Regions from separate parts of the Homo sapiens genome. Here all the other regions are reported to be linked to region 3. The links are microRNA targets in miRTarBase. Many come from high-throughput screens and were not tested one by one. Region 3 holds a microRNA gene; each other region holds the end of a gene's coding sequence. Distances are from middle to middle.

Region 1 (5,000 bases), 60 Mb from region 3:
GCCTCAAAACTTTAGGAGTAGCTTCTGGTTTCCCCAGCGGCCTCCCTTTTTTGTGAAGAAGGGCAGCCAATCTGGAGGCATGGTCTTTCTTTTATCTATGATCCCTCTCTCCGTTGACAAGCTACTGGGTACAGTAAAGTCCTAAGGAATGTGAAGTAGAAAGGTGGACTTCAGCGGGGGCCAGATCATTAGATTTAACTTTACGGCTGATAGAGGCTGATTTCAATATATTAGAAGTGATCAGGCCGGGCATGGTGGCTCAAGCCTGTAATCCCAGCACTTTGGGAGGCCGAGGTGGGCAGATCACGAGGTCAGGAGTTCGGGACCAGCCTGGCTAACATGGCAAAACCCCATCTCTACTAGAAATACAAAAATTAGCCAGGTGTGGTGGCGGGTGCCTGTAATCCCAGCTACTCAGGAGGCTGAGGCGGGAGAATCACTTGAACCCAGAAGGTGAAGGCTGCAGTGAGCCAAGATCATGCCACTGCACTCCAGCCTGGGTGACAAGAGCAAGTCTCAAAAAACAAAAACGAACAAACAAAAAAAAGAAGTGATCAGTGGGGCCAGCACCAGAAGAGCTGGAAGAATGAACTTTCACTCATTAAACCACTTACTGGGCACCCACTAAATGCCAGGAACTGGAGATACAAATCAAAGAGGAGATTTCGAACCTCAAGAATCTTTTCCATAACCAAATCAATACAAAGCAAGTGGAAAGTTGTATGAGAGGACAGGGAAGGAGCAACTGTTTGGGCCTAGCTGGTAAGGAAAGATATGACAGCAGTGACATTTTAATCAGGCCTTGAGAATTGAGTAAAGCTAAGGTCATGGAAACGCATGTTAGTCAATGAAGAATTTTGGGCATGCTGCTAGTGTCCAATCTCCTACATGGATACAGGTAACAGAAGAACTGAGGTTGGGGCCTTTTGGCTCAGGTCAAGATTAGAGAAATATGCTGGATATTTAATAACAGATTCAAGACTTCCCGTTTACCCAACAATAGTCTGGATTTGCAGCTTAATTAGTGAATTCAACAAATACTTACTGGGTATGTTAAGTGGTAGACTTGGCCAGTGTTTTTTTTCGGCCTTAATAAAATTTACAGTTAAAACAATGTAGGTGTTGTGGTCTTATTTAGGTGAGAAAAACTTAAGATCCTTTCCATCCTGAGAAAAAATATATAAGCATTTCTCCTCTAATTTCTAAATTCCCTCACCGCTTTTTAAACTTTGCAATTAATGGTAGCAATCATAGCAGCTTTCAGAAAACTACCCCAACTGCCTGTGGCAATACAGATTTGGTGGCAGGCTTCCAGACAACACAAATAGCAGTGACAGTTCTAAATCCCTAGGCCTACATTAAAAACAATTCTCTTCCCCCTGCCACAAAGAAACCAAAAACATACGCTACATTAAGTTGAATACATATACAGACTTGCAAAAGAAATTACATCTCAAAACAAACCTCCCAGAGTTAAAGCTGGTATTATTTTTTTTCCTCCAGACATCTTTTGAAAATGCGAACCAATCACACAGCTTTTCTCCCAGTCAAGAGTTACTAAAACTATTCAACACAGCTGAAGGTTGAATAGTTCTAGTAACTCTTGACTGGGAGAAAAATAAGAGGTTGGGGTGTTTCGACTGCAAATTCTTCTACCACCATTTGTTTGCAGTGTAAGTCAGGACAAGTTATGTGGAAATACGGCTAAGAATTTAAAAGCAATGTTAACATTCTAAGCACTTAATGAGCAGATGGCACATATCTTGTTCTCCTGGGTCTCCCACATTCAACACAGGACTTTTAGTATTCAAGGGGTACTCAGAAAATGTCTATTGAATAACATAATATACAAACTGGGAGTCTGATTTTTAAAAAATAGCATATTGCCCAAGGTAAGTGACTTTATTTTACAGTTTTCAAAATTAAGAACATTTTTGCTTACTTGAAGTCTATTTGTATTCATTAGTACATTTCAACAATTTGGAAATGAAAGATGTGAAGATCATTTGATAAATAGAACACTGCATATAAGGCTAATTTTTTAAAAATGAGGTTATTTTGCAATGCTAAATTAGCTTTTAGAACTTCATAACACAGATATACTTGACCACCAATTAATAGAAAAGTACCCTTTTATTGAGAGGTAAGACAAGTATATTTACAATATTCAATTGTTAGATAATATAATCTGACAGTGGGACTTTTTAAAGCAGCAGTATTTCAGGAATTACAATTTATAAGGGGAAAAGAAAAACATTCCAAATATGTTTCTGTTACAGAAAATACACTTGAACAATGACAGAAACACTTAAGGCTATGTAGTATTAGACCTTTTCCTCCATCTCTATAAAGTACATTTTTGTTACAGACAGAAGGCTGATTTTGGAAAGAAAGAAACAATAGGATGTATAGTGCTTTCTATCAGCAGACTAGTATGTTTAAAAATAGTCTCATCAAGGGTTCTGAATAAGAAATATAAATGTTGCCAGGCAGTCCCAAACTCACATTTGATATTAACTGCAGACTCATTTAAAACTGAAAACTGCTCCAGCCTCTCTCAATCTTTACTAAGGACTGGGAGATTATCAAACCCTTTCAAGTCTAATAATGCTTTTGAATTAAGATTATTGAAAAAAGGAATCTCTGTTACAGTGCAAAGAACATTTTGATAGAAATTCATGTCTACAAAGGAGTTAAATACAGATGTCCCTTACATTAGCAGATACTATTCTTGCTCTAAAAAGGTAGAATTATCAAGACATTGTAAATAATATGGGTCAAAAATATGTGTAACAGAGTTCTACAGGGCACCTTATATAAAGTCAATCCTCAAAGTATGTATTTGACACTCTCCAAGTGAGGATATTACTTTTTTGAAGAACATTAGACACAACAGTAGCCTCTTATTATTCCATTAACTATTGAGGTAGGAGTCTCCATTTGTCAATATCATCCCATTTTCACAGATACATCGTAAGTCAAATGCAAGTACCAAAAATGTCTTAATCCTTAAGACTAAACCATCACACTATACACCAAGTCTTTCCTTATTTAGATGAGCAAGATTGGGAGTTCTCTGTGTATTAAGAGATTTAACTAAAAATAAAATAAGCTGTAATCTATTTTTGTAGACATGTTTGTAAATAAATACCACAGATTTCAATTATACTTTTATGCATTAAAAAGCTTTGCAACTGTTAAAAAAACAAAACAGTGCAATCAGTGGTAAAACAAATAGTACTATGGCTGTTGAAATGTTTCCCTACATCTACCACTAAAGCTGTCACATCTTGTAAAACTAAAGAAAACAGCTATTTCCTACTGTCTAATAATCAGCAACGGTGGAAAAAAAACACTTTTTTTTTAGTGTCATGTTCTTAAGAAACCACAGTCAGTTTATTACAGTGAAATGACTTTAGCACGTGAACTCAGGTATTTTCTAATTAACTCAAGATGAGTGATCATATGAAGGATATGTCATGCTTAATGACTATTATATGCTAGGAAAAAGCTGAAAATAAGGGAAAACTCAGATTAAATGAATAGCCCTTTAAAAATAGCCATAAGTTTAACCTTTTAACATGTTACATGTCTTAAAGTAAACATTATCAAAAGTTATTTTAATTTATGAAAAACAAATAATAAGCCACTGCTAAAATTTAAAAAAAAGAAAGAAGAAAGAAAAATTACATCATGACATGGAAAAAATCCATTTGGTTTGCATCATTTAGTATCTTCAATAATACTATTCAATGAGACAAGCTATGAAACAAACTACTTCATTCATGGTCAAGAATGCTTTTTTGTTAAATACTTACACGTAATGAATGATATAGACAGATACTTAGGAGGGCAGACTCCCAAGAAGTATGAGACTTTCCGGAGTATGCTGCTGACAAAACTTAGCTATAATTTAGTAACTAAAAGTTAGTAAAGAATGACCTTTGCATATTCCAACAAAGAATATCTAGTTCAGATTTTCACCTGGCTTTGAAATATTAAGATTCAGAAGAACCACAAAAGTTTTATTTTAACCATGTTTACAAAAAAAAGTAATCCATACATCAAAATTGGGGTTTCCTTGGTTTTAATACTTTAAAATGACACAATCCAATCGAATTCATGCATCACTTCCAGAGATACAGTGCAACTGGAAATATTTTTGCCATTGCAGTGGACATTTCTAAAAAGCAAATGCCTATGGATGCTCCTGAGCCTTCAAAATAAAAAGAAAAGAAACAGGCACCACAGTTCTCTAAGGATGGCTGAGTTTCGCACATTGTGGAAAAACAACACAAATAGCCTTCAAGAGTTTCTTAAGCATCATTAACATGGATTTCACCTCTCTCAGTTTGCTTGCTGACTTCTTCTTAGTTCACTTGAGTAGAAGCCTGTTTTCACTGCTTCTTTGCTAATTTGCTGCTGGTACTTTGTAGGCTATACGTTTTAAACTCCTGTAAAGAACATTACAAGCTATTTCATGTAATTTAATTTTGTGCTGAATATTCTTCAAATGACTTTATAAATAACACAATATTTTAAATGAGTCTTCAAATTCACTTGTTGTTATACCATATTGTTGCTTTCTCCAACTTTATCTACAAACTGTAAGGAGAAGAAAAACAGAGAATTAAAGAAAGCCCGGAACATTATAAAACATTATATCAATATTTAAAATGTTGATTTTAAAAACCCAGCCTTACAAGAAGAGTTGTGGAAATTTAAGGTATGACTGACAATGACTAATCCAGTACTACTCACCATCATCTTCTGATACATAAACGTGTATAAAATTTTTTTTTCTAAAAGTTGTTTTTTGCATGACATGTTATACATATGAATTTAAGGGTGCAACATGAAAAATGCAACACAATGAATAAAGAAATTGTATAAGATGAAGATAACACTGCTAGCTTAACAAAAAATAAAAAATAAAAACATAAAAAAAACTGAAATGTCAGCCATTCATGCATTAATGAACCCAATAAGATATTTCAACT
Region 2 (6,484 bases), not on the chromosome of region 3:
CAACAGCATAAATGTACCTAATGCCACTGAACTGTATACTTAAAAATAGTTACAGGCAAAATTTTATGGTATGCCTGTTTTGCCACTGTTTAAAAAAGTGAATTATCCCTCTCCTCGCCAAAAAGATGAATTTAGAGGTAGTAGAGACACTAAAGTTTCCTAGACCTTGCTCCTTAAAGTGTAGGTAGTAGCCGCACCTGGAAGGTCATTAGAAATGCAAAATTTCAGTCCTTACTCCAGACGTACTCAATCTGCATTTTATCAAGATCATAGAATGATTTGTATGCACTTTAAAGTTTGAGAAGCAACTGCTCTAGATAATACCTTCCCTGCCTATATGTCGCATGTAAGTTATAAACATTTGGTTATTGATCTGTCCCCTAAGCTCTCAGGAGATCTGGATGGAGGTAGGTTGAGGTGGCCAGAACCTCCAACCACTTTTCTAGGGTTTTCACATTGTGTGAAAAAGTTGGGAAACACTGCTTTGGCTTATTTTCATTAGTATAAATGCAGATTGGTTTAATGAAAATGAACAGTTGTATCTAAAGAAAATATATGAAGATGATGAACTTTGTGGAACATACTAGGTAGCTAATGACTGTTGGCATGGCCCTGAGGATTTTAGATAAAGATTATAAATGTCATCAACAAATCCAATTTTATTATGTTAGAATGGATATGGCTGGTTTTATGCAACCAAAAACTACTTTGGCTTCCAGGTTCTTGGATATTACACACATAACCAATTATATTCCATTGTTTTAAGTATTTGCAATAAATTAACAGGTTCCAGTATATTGAAATAAATAGTTGTATTAAATAGAGTTGATATATGCAATAAAACTGGGAATAATTTAAACACCTGTCTTTTTTAAAATTATGAGCAGTGTATTGTTTTGGGATTGAATCATGGTTCACCATCTACTTTATGACCTTGGGCAGGTTATTTACCTGTAGTTTCTTTAACTGTCGAGATGATAATGGTACCCCAAAGGGGGCTCAAAAGGATTTTAAATGAGTTAAGTGAGTGAATACCAGTACTGTTAAAACAGCACCTTAACCCATGAGGAGGAGTCTTAAAAAAATGTTAGCATCTGTAGTCATCACCACCATTATCACTATGTACTTTGTACTTCAAAACATGAATATTCTCAGTTTTCAGAATGTTATTTTGCTAGTCATCTATATTTGAATACCTCCTTTGAGTTCTGTTTTATTATCATGCCTTTATCAAAAGTTGGTAAAAGGAATAGCTATCTAAAAAACATTTTTGTTGGAAGATATTGTTCATTATATATTTGTTTGATTTTATTGTTCTTTAGAGTTTGTCTTTCACTGTTAGCAAAAGATGTAGTACAAATGTTTAAATATGCATGCCCTCTATATTTAGAGCACTTACTAGGTACTGTGTTGCTAGTAAAATAGTCAAAGTGGAGTCTTTTTTCCTGTGACTAGCTTGCAGTTTTAAGAAATTAATACATTAATATGTTGTTTCTTAATTTGTTCTAGCATTTGAAACAACAACAGGAAGGCCTTAGCCATTTGATTAGCATCATTAAAGACGATCTAGAAGATATAAAGCTGGTCGAACATGGATTGAATGAAACCATCCACATCAGAGGTGGTGTCTTTAGTTGACAGTTCACAAACTTGTGTAAAGGTTTGTGAAATGCATCTTCTTACTGCATCAGACCTTCCTTAAGAATGAAACCGACCACATGGAGGGAAAAAGAAAACAATTCTTTCTTGGATTGGTTTTTTGAGAAGTTTACTGACAAATTACTGTTCATCAAATCTGAAATAGTCACCTCACAGCTCTTCAAAGAAAACCTTTGAAAGATTTATATCTAAAAGCTGTATTTACTTTAAAAGAAGTGCATAATTACCAAAATTGTATGTACTATTGTACATTTTTACAACAGCATTTTCTTAAACATAATCTGTGTTTAATGATTATTGTCCATTGAGCCTGTACTCTGCTTTCCATACCAAGTAAATATGAAATAATCTACTTTGCACATAACAGAACAAACTATAATTACTTGGCTGTTGGAGATTTGTACTTGAGTATAAATGTACACCAGTTTTTGTATTTGTGAACTCATCTGTGGGAGGAGTAAAGAAAATCCAAAAGCATTTAATGTTTTGTTTTTGTTCTATAAAGATATGAAAATGTATTTTTATATTATTTTACTTATTTGGAATTTACAGAGCACACCTAAGCAATTAGGATATAACAAAACTACTTAACCATTTTTGCAACCATTTTGTTTTTTAAGCCTTTTTATTTCTAAAAAGATGAAAACTTATAAATAAATTCTTAATTTGTAATTACTTTTATATAATTCTGTCTGGTGCTTTATTTGGCTTTTGAGGAATGACCATTTTTTGTCCACATAGGTACTAAATTCATAATCACAAGTCAGGAATTTTAGTCTTAAGTCTTATTTTTGCCTCCTAGGGATTTTTGTCAGTGCTGTTATATTTTGATTAGGGTATGGCAAGTAAAACTTACTTCAGATATCATCTAGTATTAAGAATTCCCTAATATGTCATTAGTATTCGAAATACTAGAAAATCTGAGTTAAACAGATTAAGTAGTGTTAAATAGTGGGTCTTTAACCAGTGGATCATTTTAAACAGTATTTCTGACTACACTATATTTGGGCTGCATCATGTTGGCCGCTTTTGAGATGCTTTAACTTTGCACTTCTCTGTGATGCTTTGGCTTGTATTGACAGGTGTTAGAAGAAACAGGCCCATGAATCTTGCTATTGTATTTACTATGGGGATGGTGAAGAGTGTGATGCACTGTATATCTATCTGGAGTCCATCCTCTGAGAATCCACTGAAGAGATTTCTCCTCAGTTGTATAGGTTACAGTTGTGTAGACTAGGATTTTTTGTGGGTTTTTTTTTTTTTTTTTTTTTTTGAGACAAGTCTCTCTGTCACCCAGGCTGGGGTACAGTGGCACAATCACGACTCACTGCAGCCTTGACCTCCTGGGTTTAAGCAGTCCTCCCACCTCAGACTCTTGAGTAGCTGGGACTACAGGCATGCACCACCACAACTGGCTATTATTTTTTATTTTGTGTAGAGATGGGGTCTTGTTATGTTGCCCAGGCTGGTCTTGAACTCCTAGACTCCAGCAATCCTCCTACCTTGGCCTGCCAAAGTGCTAGGATTACAGGCCTGAACCTCCATGCCTGGCCAAGACTAGGAACTTTAAAACTGATTGTTTCTTTCCAAATTGACTGCCAGAAGTATGCAGCTACTTTTGCCAAGTTTATGGTGTGTAAATTTGTTACACTACTCTACTACCCTCTCATCATTCTTTCCTACCCATTATATTGCAATACCAACAGTGTTGGGACAGGAATTTCTTGCCTTGTCCACATTTTCTCCGTGGCCCAGAAGATCTGCATGTCCATCATTCTTACCCATGTAGCCAAGTATAGGAGTTTTTGTCCCTCTGCACACCCCCTTATAGTAGGAAGAGTTGTTGGTCTAATTGATGAGAATTGTTACTCACTGAGCTATATAATCTAGTGGATGGATCACTCATCATGCATACCATGGTCGCTTCTCTAGCCTTTGATTTTTCATGTTCTAATATTGCTGGTTGCTAGTTCAACCAGATAAATATACCAGACAGGGCCTAAGGTCAGCCTTTTAAAAAGGCAGGCCCAGTCATCCTGTTGGGTTTCTGTCCCACTGGTGACTGCATATATAAGGCAGGCCTGTGGTCCTTGAGCATATAACTGGTGAGATAACTAGACTCAGTTATCGAAGCAAGTGTTATAGACTGAGTAGTTTGTGTTCTCAAAAAATTCATCTTGAAATCCTAACACTCAATATGGTGATTTTAGGAGGTATGGCTTTTGGGAGGTCATGATGAGGGTGGAGCCTTCATGAATGGGATTAGTGCTCTATCTCTCTTGTCCCTTCTGCCATGTGAGATGGTGAGGAAAGGACAAGGAAGAGGACACTCACCAGAAACTAAGTCTGCTGGCACCTTGATCTTGGACTTCCCAGCCTCTGGAACTGTGAGAAATAAATAAATGTTGCTTACAAGTTACCTAGTCTACAGTGGTCTGTTACAGCAACCCAAACAGACTAAGACAAAGAGATGAGTAGACTATCCTTAAAGTTCTAATTCAGATATTAAATTGATGTTAAACACTAACAGTATTGAGCATACTGGCAATTCTGAAATATCTAATCAAAATCTTTTATTGAATTTAATCAGAAGTATACAGTTTTCGGGATTTTTTTCCATTGTAAGAGTAGTATACAAGTGAAAAGTTCTGTGACATATATCTGGACCAACTTTCTGAATTTGCAAAATGAATAACAAATATACAATTCTCATTTTATCCAGTGACTTTGGCCAACACGTAAAAAATACATCATTCCTTTTGATCTCCTGTGGATCCCTATAGTTATTTCAAGTAAAGAATAAGAAAGATAAACAATGCATCAAACTACAGAGCAACAAAGAGATTTATAGCAGAAACACTGATTAAAATGATGACCATCCCAAACTGTGGAAGCAGCAGTTTGCCCGAGGATGCAGAAGGATGGCTTTTGGGACCTGGAACAGGAACTGGACCTGGAGCTGTTAACAAGAATACACAGTCACTGACACATCATTTTTTATGTCAAGTATCATCCACCTATAAAATATATCCTGAATATGTAAACAATGACACTAAAGTTGAAGTAGAAACTTACCTGAAATACTTCCAGCCAAAAGCAATTTTCAAATAAGTGTAATTCATTACAGATTTCAGGCTATATTTCCATATACAGTTGACCCTTAATACGGGTGTTGGGGTGCCAACCCCCACACAATGAAAACCTACATGTAACCTGATTCCCAAAAACTTAACTACTAATAGCCTACCATTAACTGGAAGCCTTACTGATAATAGAAATTGTTGATTAACATATTTTATATGTTATATGTATTATATACTGTATTCTGGTTGGGGCATGGTGGCTCACACCTGTAATTCCAGCATTTTAGGAGGCCAAGGCAGGAGGACCACTTGAGACCAGGAGTTTGAGCCTGGGCAACATAGCGAGACCCCATCTCTATTTTTAAAAAGATAAAAATAATTGATTAGCACATATTTTGTAAATGTATTATATACTGTATTTTGGCTGGGCGTGGTGGCTCACGCCTGTAATCCCAGCACTGTGGGAGGCGGAGGCAGGCACATCATGAGGTCAGGAGATCGAGACCATCCTGGCTAACACGGCAAAACCCCGTCTCTACTAAATATACAGAATTAGCCGGGCGTGGTGGCGGGCGCCTGTAGTCCCCGCTACTCAGGAGGCTGAGGCAGGAGAATGGTGTGAACCTGGGAGGCAGAGCTTGCAGTGAGCAGAGATTGCACCACTGCACTCCATCCTGGGTGATAGAGCAAGACTCCAGCTCAAATAAATAAATAAATAAACTGTATTTTTACAATAAAATAGAGAAAAAATATTAAAATCATAAGGAAGAGAAAACACATTTACAGTACTGTACTGTATTTACTAATACCCAAAGTTTACATCATCTGTTTATAAGATGAATTATCTGTCTGAAATGGCTGGCAACTGCAGCTGCAGACCTGAATCTATATATCAAGCAATTCAACTTTTTCTTGTAATGTCATGGCTTCTCTCTGCTTGTGAGACTTCCGGCCTCACTAGTGGCACTTCCTTTGAGTCCTATGGTGTTATTCAAGGTTTTTGGTATTGCACCAAACATGACAAAAAATACAGGAGAACTGTGAGAGATCACTTTTTGCTGTGATGTGCAATTTACTGGAGATGAACTCCTCAGAGATGTTTAGCAACACATGGTGTTTTAAGAGGATACTCGAAACATTTGAACTCACTGCAATAGCAACAGGAGGTGGCCATGAAATGATTACAATGATACAGTATGTATTATAGTTAATTTTATGCAGTTAAGTTTTAATACCGCATCTTTACATTTACGTTTCTTTTGATTTTGAATGGTGCCACATATGGTCTGTGTGCACAAATTTGGATAAATACTAACGTTTTACAATAGATTTGTGTATGTTTTATGGTAGTAAATGATAAAAATAGACTAGCATCTACATATATTTTATGCATTCATGACATACTTTCTTTTTATATATATATATATTTCTAGGTCATGCAGTTTGTCTGCAAGTTTCTTCAAATTGATGCAAATATCCAAAAAGATTTCCAATATATTTATTTAAAAAAAATCCATGTATAAGTGGACCCATGCAGTTCAAACCTGTGTTGTTCAAGGGTCGACTATATATCATCAAGATCTGCTACGCTAGGTTTTATGTAGGATTTCACATGCTTTTACATTTCTATATAGCCAATATAATGATTTTCTGTTGTTCAAGTTCTCTAGCATTTTTTTTTAGCAATTTTTCTATTTCCATTTTCTGTATATACATGCAAGGTAAAGTTTAACTCTGTGTGT
Region 3 (6,484 bases):
AAGAATCAGCATTCCCTAACTATGAAAAGAAATTGGAATAAATTCCAGAGTTAAAAAATAAAATAAGTTACCAAATAATATATTTATTCAAGAAAACCAATTAAAGTGAAGAAGATTCACAAAAGTGAAAATTGAGACAGTGTGTGTCAACCCTCTCATTTTAATGATTAAAAAATGAACTACCAAAGAGGTTTAATTAATTTGCTTAAGTCATATAGGTACATAAAGGCAGAGCAAGATAACCACACATATGTTAGTATTTCTAGTCCAGCGACCATACTCCTGTACCATCATTCAGAATTTTAAATCCTCACCTTTCTCTAATTCAATTTATTGCCTGAGAAGGCAGAGTATGGCATATACCTTCAAAGTTAATTGTTGAATTATTAACAAATAGCCATCTGCCCTTGCTAATCTAGTAAACATACTGAAGAATTTATTGAAAAGGCTTGTTGCTGTGATGTATACCATATGTGAAATACAAACAAATGTAAAATGAGAGCAAACTTATATCCCTTGACTGGAAAAGAAGACTGTTATTACATAAAAATGACAACTGCTATATCAAGACCAATTATACCAACCAGTTTATGGCTTACTCTAAAGCCGGATTTAAGGAGAAACAGTAACTACTAACATTCCATTTTAGACCTACGTAATACTCTAGCCAAGGAACAGTAATCTCATTTCTTGCTTAACCACACCACTGTCATTGTGGAAGCCTGGGCTTACTGTATCATGAAATTGAAATATGTGTACAACACACACTTTTGCACATTGGTAGACAGCAAAGATAAGGAGAAAGGCAGGACACGGAAAGATTTATTTGCCTTAGAGAAATGTGTTGGATTTTGATTCTGCAGATGACAGTCTGGTAAAGGGAAGAAATACTAGAAAGAAGAGAGAGGCAAGGGAGCATATCTCTGTATAATCACCATTTGCCATCACACACATGTGAATGCGCATACACACTAGGCTGTTAGCTAAATTTGTTTGTACATTGCATTCCTATGTGAAAAGATTGCTTGTGTTTTATCCCTTCTCTTTGGCAAAACCATCCTACCAAATATCTGTTCTTGTTCATACACGGTTAGGGTTAGATCTATTGGAATCACTGCTCTATTAATGAAGTAGATTTCTAAAGAAGTACCATTCAATTTTTTCCTCTCAAAAGTAAAGACTAAATTATTCAGAATTGGTTTCCATATTTTAACTGGTCAATCCAATTTTCCTTCAAGAATTGCATACTTTAAACATCTCATACTGCACTGACTGAGCTGGCCAGGTGTTTTGTATTTAAATATGTCCAATTCCATTGATAAAAGTAAATCTCTGTCTATAAAACATATATCCTGACTTATTCCTTTATTATTTGGTAACTTTATTATTCTTTCCTGGTTTTGGGCATATTTTGTTCCTTTTTTCCTAGGTTCTTGAGATAGGAGCTTATATTCTTGATTTGAGTGTTTTCCTCTTTTCTAATCTATCTATTTAGTGCTATAAATTTCCCTCTCAGAAAATAAACTACTTAAATACAGGTGTTCTGTATTTAAATATGTCCAATTCCACTGATAAAAGTAAATCTCTGTCTATAAAACATATAACCTGACTTATATAAGTTGCTCATGCAGTCCTGTTGTAAAAAAAAGAAAATTTAAATTACTCTTACTCATTGATAGAAAAAATCTTTACGTATAAATCAAGTTTTCTTCTGATATTGTCATTCAGGCATTTATTTAACAAATATGTATTAAATACTGAATATGTGTCATTAAGGCAAGGAGCTGAGAATTGACGGTGGACACAAACTCAGATGACTCCTTCCTTAGTACAGTTAGAGGAAAGAAGGGCAAACGAACACATCAAAGGAGCCTAAAGACTAATATGAATCTGCAAGTTTTATACAAACCACCAAGGGAAAATGCAATGTGCTAAAAGACCATGATAAAGGGATTTGACCTAATCAGGGAGGTCAAGGAGGGCTTCCCTGAGGAAGTGACACCAGCTGAAATCTAACAGACAAGTAGCATATATTTCAGGCAATGTTCCTGGGACAGGAATGAGCATAAGAATAACTGCAGGGAAACAGGAGCATGTGGTACATTAGACAGGAGCACGTTGTACCTTGGAAGGAAAGAGAATGATTAGGATCGAGCAAATGGCCAACACTTTCAAATGCTGAGGAGTCAAGCACAGTGAAGACTGAAAATGCCCATTGACTTTGGCAAGTAGAGATGACTGGGGATGTTAGGAAAAGCTGTAGCTATGGAATGATGGTGACAGCAATTGGAGAAGATTGCAGAGTAAATTCCATTTCTTAATCAGGAACTTACTCTGCAATCTTCTCCAATTGCTGTTGAAGCTGTTGAGTGTAGACAAGGCCTTAAAGAGAGAATGTTGTAGCTGTCAGGAGATAAGGGATTAGAGATTTTTGTTGTTGTTTGTTTTAATGAGGTAGTTTTATGAATTTGTTTGAAAATGTGGTAATTATCAGGAAAATAAGCAGATTTACATGCAGTTGTAAGAAGTAATACAGAGATATACCCTTTAACCAGTTTTCCCCAGGTGTAAAAACTGCAAAACTACAATATGTTATCACAATCAGAATATTGATACAGTCAAGATACAAACCAGTTCATCTCTACAAGGATCCTTCGTGATGCCCTTTATGGCCATATGTGGCCATTGCTGATTTATAGAGACACAATGAATATTTGTATGTTAATCTTGTATCCTGAGACTGGGTTGAACTCACTTATTAGTTATGGGATTTGTGTGTGTGTGTGTGTGTGTGTGTGTGTGTGTGTGTGTATTCTGTAATCATTTATGCAAATAATCATGCCATCTGCAAATAAAGACAATTTTATTTCTACCCTTCTGGTGTGTATGCCTTTTCTTCCTCTATATTTCTGTTTATATTTATTTATTTATTTTTTGAGAGGGAGTCTTGCTCTGTTGCCCAGGCTGGAGTGCAGTGTTGCGATCTTGGCTCACTGCAACTTCCACCTCCTGGGTTCAAGCGATTCTCTTGCCTCAGCCTCCCGAGTAGCTGGGACTATAGGTGCGCACCACCATGCCTGGCTAATTTTTGTATTTTTAGTAGAGATGGGGTTTCACCATATTGGTCAGGCTGACCTTGAACTCCTGACCTCATGATCTGCCCGCCTTGACCTCCCAAAGTGCTGGGATTACAGGCGTGAGCCACCGCGCCCAGCTTCCCTATACTTCTTTATTAAATGAGCTAGAACTTCCACAGATATGTTGAATAGAGGGTGAGAGTGGAAATACTTGCCTTGTTCCTGAACAACAGAGGAGAAACAATCAGGCTTTTATGATTAGGTATGATATTAGCAGCAGGTTTTTTCATAGGTGATCTTTTGTCAGGTTGAGGAAGTTCCTTTCAATTACTAGTTTTCTGATAGCTCTTCATTATGAATGAATGTTGAATTTATTAAACAACTTTTTCTACATCAATTAATATGATTATATAATTTTTCTGTAGCCTATTAATATGGTAGATTACCTTGATTAATTTTCAGATATTGAAGCAGCCTTGTACCTCTGGAATAAATTCCACTTGGTCACAGTGTATAATTCATTTTATAGATTGCTGAATTGTTGAATTCAAAATATTTGCTAATATTTTGTCAAGAATTCTTGTATCTATATGTTTATGAAGGACATTAGTTTGTAGTATTTTTTTTTGTCGTTGACTTTTTATTAGGGCAATACAAGCTTCATTAAATGATAAGGAGAGTGTTCCCTCCTCTTCTATTTTCTGAAAGAGACTGTGAAGAAATGGTATTGATTCTCCCTTAAACATTAGTAGATGGCACATGGAATACAGAAATACCAGCCACCTGCCTCCTCTTCTATTTTAAACATTGGTAGAATTTTCCAGTAAAACCATCTGTGTCTGGAGATTTCTTGTTGGGAGTCTATTTAATTACATATTGGATTTTCTTAATAGTAATAAGGCTATTCTAGTAATTTATTTCTCATTTGGTGAGTTTATGGTTTTTGAGGAATTAGTCTATTTCATCTTCATCTAAGTTGTCAAATTTATGTGTGTTGAATTTCTCATAGTATTCCCCTATTACACTTTTGATGTCTGCAGCGTCTTTAGTGATATCTACTGTTTCACATGTGGTACTGGTAATTTGTGTCTTCTGTCTCTTTTCTTTGCTAGGCTTGTAGAGGTTTGTCCATTTCATTTATCTTTTCAAAGAAATAGTTCTTTTTCATTAATTTTCTATGTTTTTATGTTTTCAATGTTATTGATTCCTGCTTTTACCTTTATTATTCCTTCCTGGTTTTAGGTATATTTTGTTCCTCTTTTCCTAGGATCTTGAGATAGGAGCTTATATTCTTGATTTGAGAGTTTTCCTCTTTTCTAGTATATCCATTTAGTGCTATAAATTTCCCTCTCAGAACTGCCTTAGTTGTGTCCTCCAAAATTTTATATGATGTACTTTCTTTTTCAATCAGTTTGAGATATATACACCCAGAGACGTGTGTGTGTGTGTGTGTGTGGGGTGTGTGTGTGTGTGTGTGTGTTTTCCTGGATATTTCCTATTTGACCTATGGATTATTTATTTAGAAGTATATTGATTAGATTCCAATTGTTTGGGGATTTTCCTGTTAACTCTTTTTAATTTTTAGTTTGAAAATACTGTGGTCTTAAAATAGACTTTGCATGACTTCAAATATTTTTAAATTAGTTGAAGTTTGTTTCGTGGCCCAGGTTTTCGTTTATCTTGGTAATTATTCTGTGGGCATTTAAAAAGAATGTGTATTCTGCTGCTGTCGAGAATAGTTTTCTATGAATGTCAATTAAATCTTGTTGGTTGATGATGTCAAGTTTTTCTACATCTTCACTGACTTTCTGTCTGTTGTTTTATCAATATTAAGAGAGAAGTGTATCTAATGATAACCTGAAATATGTAACTGGAATGTATAGGCACACATCATATCAGAAGCCAAAACATAGAATGGACATAAGTCAACATGACATATTTGTGCATGAGCTGAATATCAGCCCTGAATACATGTCAAGAGGCATGGAAAAAAGAGGACACTTTTGATAAGTACTGAATAAGTAGATTCAACAAACTGTAATGACCAGCAGAGTGTGAGATGCAAGGAAAATGAACTTAAGAATCACTTGCAGATTCTCAGTTTGCATTACTGCATGAATGGAGGTAACATTAACAGAAACACAGAGTGCACTGAAGGAAATATGGTTTGCAGGGTGGGGTGGAGATACAGAACTCAGTTCATGTCATCTTGGGCATAAGATGTGCACAGACTATTCAGAGATGTCTAACAATAGGTTAGTACTCAGCAGGAAAGGCAGATATAAAAAGGGGATTTAGAAGCCATGATTTAATTAATGATCCTCAAATATAAACTGCTTGGAGATTATCCAGGAAACGTAAGCAGAATAAGAAAATAGAGCAAAGACTATGATCCTGCTAAACTCTAATGTTAAGGACCAAAGTGAAAGAAACAAAGAGAAGAAAAGAAGAACAAGCTGTCAGGATGGAAGAAAGAAAACGAGGAGTAGAGTATAATTTAGTTCCACAAGTATTTATTAATTGTGTAGTGTGTGCTATGCACTGTGCTGTGAAACTGGCTTTTATCCTCTTCGAGATGATACCCTCTTCTAGACATAAATGTATCATTTCAGTATAGTGTGGCCAGCTCAGTGACAGACATATGCTCGAAAGCAACGGGACCACAAAAAGGGGCACTGCACACAGCCCAAGAACGTGAGAGAAAACTTTCAAGAAATTATAACATCTAAGCAGAGTCTACAAGGAGAGTAGGAGTTAACCAAGAAAGGAAAGACAGGAGGAAAGTCACACCAGAAAAAAGAAACAACATGAACATTAGCCAAAGAGCCTGGAGCTCAAGAGAGAGGAAAGGATCACCTAAAGGAATGGTCTGCAGGGCTGAACTCTAGTAAGAGAAAAAATAAAATCAGATTAAACAAGGCCCTTTGACTTTGTCACTTATGAAGTCACTGGTGACCCCTGCTGCAGCAGCTTCTATGAAATGATGTGAACATAAATCAGACTACGGTGAGATGAGGAATAACTGAAACAATATGAGGTTCAGGAATCTGGGCAGGATATTTTTTCAAGGAATTTAGTGGAGAAGAAAATAAAGATGGCATAGTTGAAGCAGGCAAAGGTCTAAAAGACTTGGTTTTGTGACCAGAGAAAGTCAAAGACATTTATAAGTTGTAGAAAACAAGCCAGAGGGCAGAGAAAAGGTTTTAAATAGTAGCTTACTTCAGTCAATTATTCACACAACAAATATTTATAGAGCATCTACACTCTTCTTGAGCAAATCATTCCAACATAGAAACAAACAACCCTCCATCACAGTGTTAATATCATGTTTCAAATAAACTTGAGAAACAATAAAAGCCCATGGTAAATAGCGCAAAATATGTATGTATCTCAATTCTAAAGCAGCT
Region 4 (6,265 bases), not on the chromosome of region 3:
TTCATATAGCTTATTAGAGAGCTGGCCTGGACCAGTCCTCTTTGAGGTGTTGCTGGAACTTGAAGGAACCACTGTTGAGCTGAGCAGAAGCTTACAGATACACCCTAGGGGAGTATGTGGCTTGGATGGGGCTCCTGGAGACAGCGAGCCACCAGGAACCACAGAAGGAAGGTGGGGTGAAGTTGAGTCAGCAGTCTGGCCAGACCAGTTGATGGAAGAAAGACCTGAACTGGATTCAAGAGACAAACTTTCATTGCCTCAGGTTAAAGATGGTCTCAAAGGTTGACATTAGAAAATGTAAAAAGGTGAAGCCAGGCATGGTGGCAGGTGCCTGTAATCCCAGTTACTTGGGAGGCTGATGTGGAAGGACTGCTTAAGGCCAGGAGTTCAATGCTGCAGTGCACTATGTTCTCACCTGTGAACAGCCACTGCACTCCAGCCTGGGCAACATAGTGAGACCCTGTCTCAAAAATTTTTTTAAAAAGAGTAATTGTAGGAAGGTGAATGAATGGATGTCCACTTTCCATTGACCTACTTGATTAAATGAATAATCTACATTTAAAAAGCCACTTAATCACCACCAGGGCCATTAAGACATATGAAAATCTCAACAGTTGAAAGAGGTCTATGGTGCATATGATAAATTTGGAAGTGGAAATTGGTGAATGATCCTCTAAAAACGAATGGGGTCTTCCTTGTACATACACATGTGGAGGTAAGGATCTGACAGCTCGGAGGTTGCAAACTGGAGACCACTGCTGTCACATATATTTTGTTTAACTTGAACAATGTTTTAAAATAAGATTTCACCTGAATTTCTGGTTTTTCTCAAATATTAAAAAGATGGAGCCACACATTCTTCCATAGCAACAGTATGCCTGCATCAAGTACCCACTGTCTCCTGCGGCTATTTAGTGGGGTAGGGGACTTCAGAAAAGGTTGCTAAAACCAAGAAACTACTTTTTAGGGGTTTCAGGCTATTTGCCACTCCCTCCTTGAAATGCTTTCTTGGTTTTTATACACTGCTTCAGCCTTGTTTTCCTCCCACTTCTCCAACTGCTCTTTTTCATTCCCTTCTACAAAAGTCCTTCCTCCTCTGCTGTCCCCAGATTCTAGGAATCTCAGGGCTCTATTTTAGATCTTCTCTCTTCCCTATTCCACACAGTTTTCTTGGTAAACCTCATCTCTCAAGGTTTTGAGTCCCAGCCAAATGCTGCTTATGTCCATGGTAGGTGTGCAGTACATATGGGATTGGTTGAATCGTGCAGAAACATGAGATAGGAGGATTCTGGGGTGATTTTGTTTTGTTTTTGAGACAGGGTCTCCTCTGTTGCCCAGGCTGGTCTCAAAGTTCTGGGCACAAGCGATCCTCCCAACCTCAGCTTCTTGAGGAGGAGATGCGATTATAGGTGTGCACCACTATGCCCCACCTCGTGTGTATTTTTCATGTTCTCTTCTTTCGCTGACCTAAACTACTTATTTTTAAAAGCATAATGCTTATTTTGGAAACTTATGAAAATACTGACATATACAAATAAGGAAATAGCAATTGCCTACAATCCAAGATAACCACTGTTAGTATTTTGGCTATTTAACTCACTCCATGATTTCCACCACTCTCTATCCCCTCACCATAATTTTTTCTTCATAAACTCATTGTCCTTTTTACTTACTACTTTATTTTCTATCTTCTTTACCACATTTTGTCCATCTGTCCACTACAACCCCAGGTCCTATAATAGTGCCTGGCATACAGAAGGCATGCACGCCCTTAATCTTTGTTGAATAAATGAGTCAATGTCATTATATATATGTGTGTGTATATATATATAATGTGTATGTATATATGTGTATGGAGAGAGTGAGCAAGCGCTGGATCATAATTTATACACAATTCTAGAGTTTTATTCACTTAGCATTACCTTTGTGCATGCTACTGACTTGTTGAAAAACTTTCAGTGATTTCTTAGAACAAAATCCTTACTTTAGCCCACAAGCTTGGGTTTCTACAGCCTAAAATGTCCCCAGAATTCAATCCCCGGAGGATAAAATGAGTTTAAAAAAAAAAGGAAAACAGAGTGATAAACATCAAGACATAAAAGTATGAGGATATGCACAGTGATTCTAAAAATTCAAATTAAAACTAAACTGGAATATTTACATATTTTATTAAATCTTTACAATCAGTAATTATAATCAAATACATAATTATATACAGGATTATATACATTTTGCCCAGACTTTTACATCACAGTACATAGTTTCCCTTAGAAATATTGTATACATTTATCACCAAACAATAAAATCCAACAACAGTAGTGTTACAGCACCTGTTAGTACAGACATCTTTTTCATAAATTACATCATAAGAAAATATACGGCTGTAAATTGGGCTTTTAAAAATGTCTTTTATAAAATCTGAACATACAATATTTCATTCACAGAATGTTTTTTTTTTCTATGTTCTGACTGAAGCCTTGTGCATAAAACGACCGGCTGGAATATTTACTAAATTCTACCCCCCTCTAAAATTATAAGCAGTATTTGAATTACTTATGCTGAGCTTTCTTCATGATGAATTTGGCATGGGGTTTGGTGAGAGAACAAATGTTGGCTTTACTATAAAAAAGGTTGTGTGATGGTAATTTAAATTTTAAAAGCTTCTTGAGAGAGTAATTACATTAGTGAAGTTAAAATCAGAAAGTGTACAATTTTTCTTTTTACTAATACTGTAAAGAAAAAGGGAGACGTATAATGCCAAGAGTTAATTTGTTCTGAAACAATTATACTCTTTTTGGAAGCCTATTGCAATTTAAGAAGAAAAAAGAAAACTTGCCTAACAAAATATCCCATACCAAACATATCTAGTAAATTACAATTCTTTCACACTTAAAACTTTATGGGAAAAGTATTGCAAATAAGGGCATATCATTTCAATGAACTTTTATATGCAGAAAAAAACTAGCTATTTTATTTTTAGTAGGTAAACAGGTTAAGTTTTAAAACTTGAAAATACCTGAATTAAATACTTGCTCTAATATCTCTTAAAGGATTTCAGCTAAAATCCTTGATTCCAGATTTGTAAACATTATATAAATCTTTCTTAAACAATTTTATGGCTGTGGTGATCACTTCAGCTATATTTCTAAGCAGTCAACATTTAACTGAGGTAGACCAGATGTTTCTAAATTCGGGGTTTCATAGAATCCCCTGAATCTTTAGCAAGTTACTAAAATGTCTATAAAAGTTAACTAAAAAACAAAACACTAAAAAAAAAAAAAACAACTAATGCCTTTGGAATTTTTAATGAACTCAAAAACTACTTTGTGGCAGTATGTCAAGTAAGTAAATGAATGTAGAGTTGTAATTACAACGTTGGAGTTTTTTAGACGAACATTATCTCCTCTTTTCTTAACTAGGGAAATATTGAGTATAATTCCTTCTGGGTATTAAGAAAAATTGGTTAAATTTTTTCCTTTTCTTTTTTTAAGGATTTACTTTTCTTAACAAGTGAACAATTTGCTTCTAAGCGTCAATGAAAGGCAACACCTCCCTCTAATGGCCAAAGGAAGAGAGTGGCAGTAAGCTGGCTTTTCCAATGTGTCACACAATCCTTCATGCCATTAAGTTCTCCTTGTTGGAAAAGAAATTAGGTTGTTTTGATAACTTAGAAAAGTTAGTTTTAGACAACAGTGACTTTCAGCTACAAATACAAAATCAAATCCATGTATATAAGGCTTCTGTAATCGATGTCTTAGAGGAACATCTGCTCATTTTCTCCAAGCCCCAGTCCTATAAATCAAGGCAAGTCAAGTAATTAAGCTTCAACTATTTTGGCAGCTTTGCAATTAAAATGAACAAAGCACTATATCTATCCTTCCATATACTGTATATATTATAGTTCTATCTTGTTACACCAAATCTCACATGCAGAGAGACTAAAAATATCCATTTTGGTTTCAGGTATAATTAAAAGCCAATAAGGGTCTTGCATACTATTCTTTTTCCCCTCCCCAAAGTGAATTCTCCATCAGATTTACTACTCCCTGACTCAATTATATTTACCTGGAATATCTGAATGCAGGTATTTATCCTCTCAGAAAAGAATATGTTTACCTGGGATCTAAACATACTGTACACGAATATACATAACTGCAATACAGCACTGCTGTTTTTAACAGCTCCACTTACACCTCATCAGTACCTCACAACCGTGTTTTAGGAAAAAGTTTTGTGTAATGTTATGGTAAAGAGAAGAAAATTATGTCTCTTAAATATTCCTTTAGAACAAATTCAGGCAAGTTTAAAAAATAAATAAAATGAATAAAGCCATGATTTCAACAACAGGGCTGTCTACAAACATCAACAACAAAATTTAAAAATTTTTAAGACTTAAATGTGGCCAGCACCAGACTACTACAACAACAACAAACCAAAAAAAAAAAGGGGGGGGGTGGAAGTCTCATTAAGCTATATAGCTATATGTAGTTGTATTGTACTTTTTTTTTTAAACACAGGTCACCATACACTAATTTTCAAGTCCGTATCAGAAGGAATATCTGTTAAAAACAAAAACAAAAACCATGATTCAACAGAAAATGTGACAGATTCCTTAGGTGCAACTTTAGAAACCTAAGTTTCAAAGGAGAAAAACAGTAGTTACTCCAGGAATTTTAACTCACTAACCACAGTTCTATCATGGCTCTGTAAGACAGAAAAATGGAACAAAATGTATATAGCTGTTGGCGATACGAGCCTTGTGGCTCAAATTGCATACCAAACATGGGATGGAGTAAGGCTGATGGCTAGAGGTAATCACCTCTAAGAGAAATGAACTGGAAATGATTTATAATCTACCCTACAAGGATATAATGCTAGGTTCCATTTCAGAGTAGTCACAGCTTTCCCTATGGAAGGCCCAATGGGAGGTTCATATTGCAACATTACAGTTTCTCCCTTACTCCATTTTTCAGAAGTATTAAGTAAGCAATCTCCACAATGTATTATATGACCTTTTTACCTGGTCCCACTGATTAGTCTTTATGCAGAGAACTCACTGAGAAAGTACACTGGCTTCACCTTTGGTTTAAATAAAAAAGACATTGTTAAGAAGGAAAAAAAATCAAGTCATCTTGATCATTTGTCACTAAATGAAACAAGAGAAAGCAATGAGCAAAGACTGTTTTCACCATAAATGCATTTGCTTCATAACCACTTAGGTCACTTAGAGTGTTTTGTGAAGGCAGCATAATCAGAATGCCACAATACTCGGATGCATCTTCCCAAAAGAGCCTCTAACCCCCAAAACCAAGAAAGGCGAGCTTCCTTTAATTAGAAGGCTATCCAAACTCCTATTCCCCACTCCACTACTAAATGAATTTTGTTTCTTGTCTATCCAGAGACAACAGAAATCTGGTTCGCAGGAATGCTCAGTAATCTTTCCCTGGCCTGAGGTGTTGCAGGGTGGTGCAGTGCTGCATTTGAAGGGGGAACTGTGGATTTCCATTTTTGATGGGACAGTTTTAAACAAGGTCAATTCTAACACAGCATGCTCCAGATTCCTACGATAACTACGCCAGTCAGAACGTGGTTGTTCATCACCATACTTAAAGCCTCCCATTAGAAAGCCTGCTTAGTATTAGGATGTCTATTAACCACACACAGTTTACCTTTTCTTTTTAAATACCTACCAACAGATTGTTTAGCAAGTCATAGCTCATCCTTCTCCATCATTTCAAATGCTTCTATATCTTCATTCCAGTCTGCTAATATGGAGTCTATAGGCTGGACCTTTTTACCCCAGCTAACATTAGGATTGGAATCTTCCTCAGTTTCTGATTGTTCTTGAAGCTGGTTATCTAAATCTGTACATTCACCATTAAGATTTGTAGTCTCATGGTTTTCTGTGGGATTAGAAGTCTGTTCAGAAGGGGAAATGCTTGCAGCATTGTCCATATCTGCTAGAGATAATGATTCTGGGTGAGAATTTAGAGAATTTTCCTCAGAAGACTCTTGATCAACCAAATCAACCTCCTGAGAACTTGATGAAATCTGTTCACCACTCTGATTCTGAGAATCATTTTCAGAGGATGGTTGTTCTTCATTTTCCATTTCAGGATCTGTATGAGAAAGAAACAAACCTCATGCTACTTCTCTAAAAAAATGTACTATTACACTTTCCAAAGCATATTGGTTTTTGCAACAAGATGAAATAAAACGTGAAAGAGACTCATGTTAATGCAGAAAGGTGAGCATCAGCACTGAA

Evidence for each region. The annotated mature microRNA hsa-miR-4699-3p reads AAUUUACUCUGCAAUCUUCUCC and lies in region 3 at 2,289-2,310, opposite strand. An mRNA with a match to its seed (bases 2 to 7 or 8) in the 3' UTR can be bound and repressed. Matches are read on the target gene's strand: a 7mer-m8 pairs with bases 2 to 8, a 7mer-A1 pairs with bases 2 to 7 and ends in A, and an 8mer does both.
Region 1: miRTarBase lists GOLT1B as a target of hsa-miR-4699-3p. Seed matches in the 3' UTR shown: 7mer-A1 at 2,156-2,162.
Region 2: the mRNA of NUP54 is a reported target of hsa-miR-4699-3p. Seed matches in the 3' UTR shown: 8mer at 1,992-1,999.
Region 4: miRTarBase lists EDEM3 as a target of hsa-miR-4699-3p. Seed matches in the 3' UTR shown: 7mer-A1 at 4,059-4,065, 7mer-m8 at 4,035-4,041, 7mer-m8 at 3,493-3,499, 8mer at 2,503-2,510 and 7mer-A1 at 2,155-2,161.

Annotation. Positions count from the first base shown.
Region 1 is chr12:21,515,274-21,520,273 of GRCh38, reverse strand. GOLT1B (golgi transport 1B) reads right to left here. Exons shown (of 5, transcript NM_016072.5): 5 at 1,866-4,605. The coding sequence ends at 4,567. Among named protein-coding and RNA genes, the nearest start is that of SPX, 8.5 kb to the left of the region's middle.
Region 2 is chr4:76,110,520-76,117,003 of GRCh38, reverse strand. It overlaps NUP54 (nucleoporin 54), which reads left to right. Exons shown (of 12, transcript NM_017426.4): 12 at 1,510-2,340. The coding sequence ends at 1,638. ART3 (ADP-ribosyltransferase 3 (inactive)) reads right to left here. Exons shown (of 12, transcript NM_001130016.3): 12 at 4,218-4,618. The coding sequence ends at 4,485. Among named protein-coding and RNA genes, the nearest start is that of NUP54, 35 kb to the left of the region's middle.
Region 3 is chr12:81,154,259-81,160,742 of GRCh38, reverse strand. MIR4699 (microRNA 4699) reads right to left here and starts at 2,355; the gene lies at 2,282-2,355. All of the region lies in intron 7 of ACSS3 (acyl-CoA synthetase short chain family member 3), which reads right to left.
Region 4 is chr1:184,688,354-184,694,618 of GRCh38, forward strand. It overlaps EDEM3 (ER degradation enhancing alpha-mannosidase like protein 3), which reads right to left. Exons shown (of 20, transcript NM_025191.4): 20 at 1,884-6,119. The coding sequence ends at 5,710. Among named protein-coding and RNA genes, the nearest start is that of EDEM3, 63 kb to the right of the region's middle.